2 separate regions of the Homo sapiens genome follow, and region 1 is linked to region 2. Evidence: fine-mapped expression QTL. A gene starts in region 2. The other region holds a variant in brackets. All regions are shown on one strand. Distances are between the middles of the regions. Region 1 has its middle 35 kb from the start of C5orf22. Region 2 holds the start of C5orf22 (chromosome 5 open reading frame 22).

The links. PIP is the estimated chance that this variant, and not a neighbour inherited with it, causes the effect. A credible set is the group of variants that fine-mapping cannot tell apart.
Region 1: its variant is the best candidate, but not a certain one, in a credible set for the expression of C5orf22 in whole blood (TOPMed, PIP 0.71).

The regions. Positions count from the first base shown.
Region 1 is chr5:31,565,863-31,568,776 of GRCh38, reverse strand. No RefSeq gene overlaps it. Among named protein-coding and RNA genes, the nearest start is that of C5orf22, 35 kb to the right of the region's middle. The variant T/C (reference allele first, on the strand shown) is at 1,320.
Region 2 is chr5:31,530,803-31,533,716 of GRCh38, reverse strand. C5orf22 (chromosome 5 open reading frame 22) reads right to left here and starts at 1,416. Exons shown (of 9, transcript NM_018356.3): 1 at 1,244-1,416. The coding sequence starts at 1,324. DROSHA (drosha ribonuclease III) reads left to right here and starts at 1,624. Exons shown (of 36, transcript NM_001382508.1): 1 at 1,624-1,727; 2 at 2,192-2,267; 3 at 2,793-2,914. RefSeq lists enhancers at 1,195-1,244, 1,295-1,344, 1,375-1,544.

The sequences.
Region 1 (2,914 bases), 35 kb before region 2:
ATATTAAACACATGCTTTGATATCTGCCAGGGCAAGTTTCTCCCATTTTTTCCTCCTAAAATTGTCTAAGCTATGCATACACGCATACACTTCTAGCCTTACTTATGAATTCTTGAATTAGCTAGCCAAATTGTATGCTAAAGACTGTTGGGTTATTTTGGGGATTACATTTTACATATCAACTTGCAGAGAGCTGGCTTTTTTTTTTTTTTTTTTTGGACAGTCTCTCTCTTTTGCTTAGGCTGGAGTACAGTGGCATGATCTCTGCTCACTGCAACTTCCACCACCCAGGTTCAAGTGATCCTCCCACCTCAAGCTCTCCAGTAGCTGGGACTACAAGCATGCACCACCACACCCAGCTAATTTTTTTTTTTTTTTTGAGATGGAGTTTCACTCTTGTTGCCCAGGCTGGAGTGCAATGGCATGATCTTGGCTCACTGCAACCTCTGCCACCCAGTTTCAAATGATTCTCTTGCCTCAGCCTCCTGAGTAGCTGGGATTACAGGTGTGTGCCACCATGCCGAGCTAATTTTGTATTTTTATTAGAGATGGGGTTTCACCATGTTGGCCAGGCTGGTCTTGAATTCCTGACCTCAAAGTGATCCACCTGCCTCGGCCTCCCAAAATGCTGGGATCACAGGCGTGAGCCACCACACCCGGCCTAATTTTTGTATTTTTTGTAGAGAAAGGGTCTCACCATGTTACCCAAGCTGGTCTCAAACTCCTGGGCGCAAGTGATCCTTCTGCCTTGGCCTCCCAAAGTGCTGGGATTATAGGCATGAGCCCCTGCACCCAGCTTGGCATGTTAAAATACTGAAATTTATCGTCTATAACCAATAATGTTCTTAATTTTGGATTTCTTCTACATCTCATAAAGTTTACATTTTTCCTTGTAAAGATCTTCTATATTTATTATTTAGGTTCTGTTGTGAATTCTTTTCCATTACATTTTCCATCTATTGCTATTTGTATTAGTCTGTTTTCACACTGCCATGGAGAAATACCTGAGACTGGGTATTTTATAAAAGAAAGAGGTTTAATTGACTCACGGTCTCACATTGTTGGGGAGGCCTTGGGAAACTTACAATCATGGCAGAAAGCAAAGGAGAAGCAGGCACCTTCTTTACAGGATGACAGGACAGAGTGAGTGCTGAGCAAAGGGCACTCTTAAGCCCCTTACCATCAGATCTCATGAGAACTCACTATCATAAGAACAGCATGAGGATAACCACCCCCATGATTCAATTACCTCCTATGACAACTACCTGGGTCCCTCCTATGACACACGGGGATTATGGGAACTACAATTCGAGATGCGA[T/C]TTGGGTGGGGACACAGCCAAACCATATCACTGGTGTATCACAAAACTACTAATTTATGAATGTCCATCTGCTATCTAAGCCACCTTGTTGAACTTTGTTGTTATTTGTAAGTTTTCATCATATTAGTTTCATAATCTATCATGTGGTAGATTAATCATACCCTGGAGCCTCCCCCTCTTATCTCAAATCCCTAGGAATGACAGAAAAGTTATAAGAAAAATAAAATACATCCTTGCCTCCTAGAACACACAAAAAAGAAAAAAAAAGAAAAAGAAAATACATAGTGGCATCCTGTATATACTATTAATCATTTTATATTTTCTCTTCCTCCTGGTGGAATTTTCAATATCAGTACACAGAGAGGAGCCCCCTTCTGTGGTGGTAAGGGTACCACCATATGGATGTCTGATAACTTAACCAGTCCCTGTTGAAAGACCTTCCTCCCCAGTCTTTTACTGTCACAATGAAAATCCTTGTATAAAAGTCTTGCAATTGCCTGATGGGTTCTTCCTGCCTGCTGCACAGACAAATGCAATTCACTGAGACTGTGGTACTGCAGTAAAGAAAGTTTAATGCAAGGCCAATGATATGGTTTGCCTGTGTCTCCACCCAAATCTCATCTTGAATTGTAGTTCCCATAATCCCCACATATCATGGGAGGGACCCAGTGGGAGGTATTGAAACATGGAGGTGATTACCCTCATGCTGTTCTCATGATAGTGAGTGAGTTCTCATGAAATCTGATGGTTTTATAAGGGGCTTTTCCCCTTTTGCTCAGCACTTCTCCATCCTGCTGCCCTGTGAAGAAGGTGCCTTCTCCTCTATCGCCTTCCACCATGGTTGTAAGTTTCCTGAGGCCTTCCCAGCCATGCGGAACTGTGAGCCAATTAAACTTCTTTTCTTTATAAATTACGCAGTCTCAAGTATTTCTTCATAGCAGTGTGAGAATGGACTAATACAGAAGAGAGTAGGGTGCTGCTATAAAGATACTCAAAAATGGGGAAGTGAATTTGGAACTGGGTAACAGGCAGAGGTTGGAACAGTTTGGAGGGCTCAGAAGACAGGAAAATGTGGGTAAGTTTGGAACTTCCTAGACTTGTTGAATGGTTTTGACCAAAATGTTGATAGTGATGTGGACAATGAAGTCCAGGCTGAGGTGGTCTCAGATAGAGATGATGAACTTATTGGGAACTGCAGCAAAGGTGACTCTTGCTATGCTTTGGCAAAGAGACTGGTGGCATTTTGCCCCTACCCTAGAGATCTGTGGAACTTTGAACTTGAGAGAGATAATTTAGGGTATCTGATAGAAGAAATTTCTAAGCAGCAAAACATTCAAGAGGAAACAGAGCATAAAAGTTTGGAAAGTTTGCAGCCTGAAGATGCGATAGAGAAGAAAAACACATTTTCTGGGGAGAAATTCAAGCAGGCTGCAGAAATTTGCATAAGTAATGAGGAGCTGAATGTTAATAGCAAAGACAATGCAGGAAATGTCTCCAGGGCAGGTCAGAGATCTTTGTGGCAGCCCTCTCATCACAGGCCCAGCGGCCTAGGAGGGAAAAATTGTGTTGTAGGCCTGGGCCAGGGCCCCCCTGCT
Region 2 (2,914 bases):
CTCTGCTGTCCAGGCTGGTTAGGGTCTTTTTGGTACACTTAGAATGGTGGGGTTGGGCTAGGTGGTCTATAAAGGCCATTTCTCCTCTTACATCTTCTCTAATTCTAGGTTTAATACCTAATTTGAAAGCACCGTCTAACCTAGGCTTTCTCATTCTCTCAAGGTCATAGACACTATATCCAGGTCCTGAGAAACCTATCTTCCTCTCCTATTAGCTGTCACCAACAGTAAATCCCTCTTCTTTTTTAACGTCCAGAGAACTGCCTCCCATCCCAAGCCTACTGATGCTACTTTAAAACATATTTATTAGATCCATGGGCCTCCTTTGTTGACTTGGAAAAGTCTAGATTAAGACACCAATTTGGCTACTGTAAATCAGCACGGCCATAAACATGGAAACCCCTTTTAGTGTTTATCTATGCAGGGCACCGTGTTAAATTTTTTTTTTTTTTTACGCAATATGGGCCGTGCGCAGTAGCTCACGCCTGCAATCCCAGCACTTTGGGAGGCCGGCGGGGGCCGATCACGTGAGGTCAGACTTTCAGACCATCCTGGCTAACGTGGCGAAGCCCCGTCTCTACTAAAAATACAAAAATTAGCTGGGTACGGTGATGCGTGCCTGTGATCCCAGCTACTCAGGAGGCTGAGACAGAAGAATCGCTCGAACCCAGGAGGCGGAGGTTGCAGTGAGCCGAGATCGCGCCACTGCACTCCAGTCTGGGTAACAGAGAGAGACTCCGTCTCAAAAAAGAAAAAAAAAAGATTTTTAAACACAGTATGCACACAATAATACTCCTAAGAGCCCTGTGAGTCCTACGATTACTGTCCCCATTTCAGATCAGAGCCCACGTTCCAAGCATAAAGCCTCCCATCTAAACAGCAGGGCTGTGGTGGCGATTCCAGGAGATACTTGGAAGCCAGAGTTAACTGCAGGTTAAGAACACAGGGCTCTGCAGCCAGACTGTCCGGTTTCGAATCCCGATGCCACCTTTTGTTTGGTTCTGGGATTTGGGGGCAAACCGAGGTAAATAAGTTGCCCCGACTCGTAGGAAGCGCCCATAAATGTCAGTTCTCATTCTTCCTAGTTAGCTGTTTTGGGGTCCTCTCCACAGCAACGGAATAGGGCAGTTTAACTCTGGTTAACTCTCTGGCCTCCGATGCTAAGGTTGCGCCCTCTGCTTGGCCCTCTGAGCGTCAGGGCTTCCGCTGATTCTGCCCCAGAGCCCTGTTGCCGTCCGCTCACCTCCTGATGATCCTCCACCACCCACACTGGGAGCTTGGGGTAACGCCGGAGACCAGCGCGCCCTCCCGCGGAGTCACTCATGTTTTTGCGCCCGTCAGTTTTGCAGTAAAGCGGTGGCAGCTGGAGAAGACCCGGGAAAGCCGGCGCCTCATCCCGGCCAGCTCTCTCCGGGCGGAAGCGCTCCCTCACCCGGTTGCGTTTTCGGATTGGAGGACGTAGGGGGAGGGGGCGCGGGCTCCAAAGGGTCTTTTGCTGACGATTGGTCTAGACGTCCATCGCTTTCGTTGACGCGCCAATCACCGCGCACAAGGCCCTGCGGTGGGCTGAAGAGTTTTCCCTCCCTTGGCCCAGCTTTCTCAGGTTTGCTTTTTAATTCCCTCGGTTTCCTGTTCCGGAGGCGCGGGCGGTGCCACTGTCTTGGTACCTGCGGTAGTAGCCTGGCTTTGCTCTGACGGCGATCTCGCGGCCCGAGAGCCTTTTATAGGTAAAAGGGGTACCTTGCAAGTGTTAGAAGAGAGTTTCCGAGTGTCAGGATTTAAACGGGGCTGGAGTCTCCGGGGCTGGGGTGAAAAGCGTCCGGGAATTGGGGTCGGGCAGCCCCACTTCAGATCTGCAGCTAAGGGCAAAAGAGCGACGCTAGGCCTGGATCCCGCAAATAAGTGGAAGTGAAAAAGGAGACCTTTCATTCATTTGTGGAGCACACACTATGGTCCAGGCCTGGGGCCGCCCGGCTCTCGGAGGGGAGTGAGATCCTGAGCTCAGCGCCTGCCTCGTGGGGCGTACCGTCTGGCGGGAGATGCAAACAGTAAATGTGCAGTTATGGATCAGGATGAAGGTGACTGCCCTGCAGATCCACCTGGGGAAAGAGGGAGTTCTCAATAAAAATGTAGTCACACTTTAAAATTCTTTTTACATGCACTGACGTTCTGGCCGTGTTAACTATTCAAGACAGCTCCTTCAGTGTCTCTGTTTCCAAACCGCAACCGAGAAGAGACAGACGGAGAAAAGAGAGTTACTTTTCCAGGTGCAGTGAATTCCTTGACTTTTGAATTAAAGTCTGCATCCACAACACAGCCGGACTATGCCTTCAATAGGTCAATTTCATGATTAGTATTTTTAGATTTTCTAACTACTGAAACATCCATGAGGATCTGGCAGTGAATGTTCAGCTCTTGTTACACACTGTACAAGAGTGTTCGTGACCCTGACTTTTGCCCACCTCTAGGTGCGGCACACACCTTTGTGTTCCCCTAAGCCCTGCACATACCTCTTTTTTGTGTGTTTATTGCATTATTTTGTATTTTTAAAACACTTACTTGTACGTGGGTTCTGAGTTCCTTGAATCCTACAGGCTGTGTGTCTTATTATCTCTGAGTCTACAGGGCCTGGGACAGTGCTTCCCATTTATGGGCTCATTAAATATTGCATGACTCAGTGAAAAGGCCTGCTTTCTGTTGCGGAGGTACATGGAAGGGAAATGTACAGTAGCAACATGGAAACATACTATTGGTGAGAGAGTAAACATTTATTGACCACCTACTGTGTGTAGGTTGCTTTTCCCGGGGATGTGAAGGATACAGAAATGACTGTGAATCAACCCATATCATCAAGGAGCTGATAATCTAGTGGAAGAGTTAGACGTGTGCATACTTCACTATGATATGAGGCAGT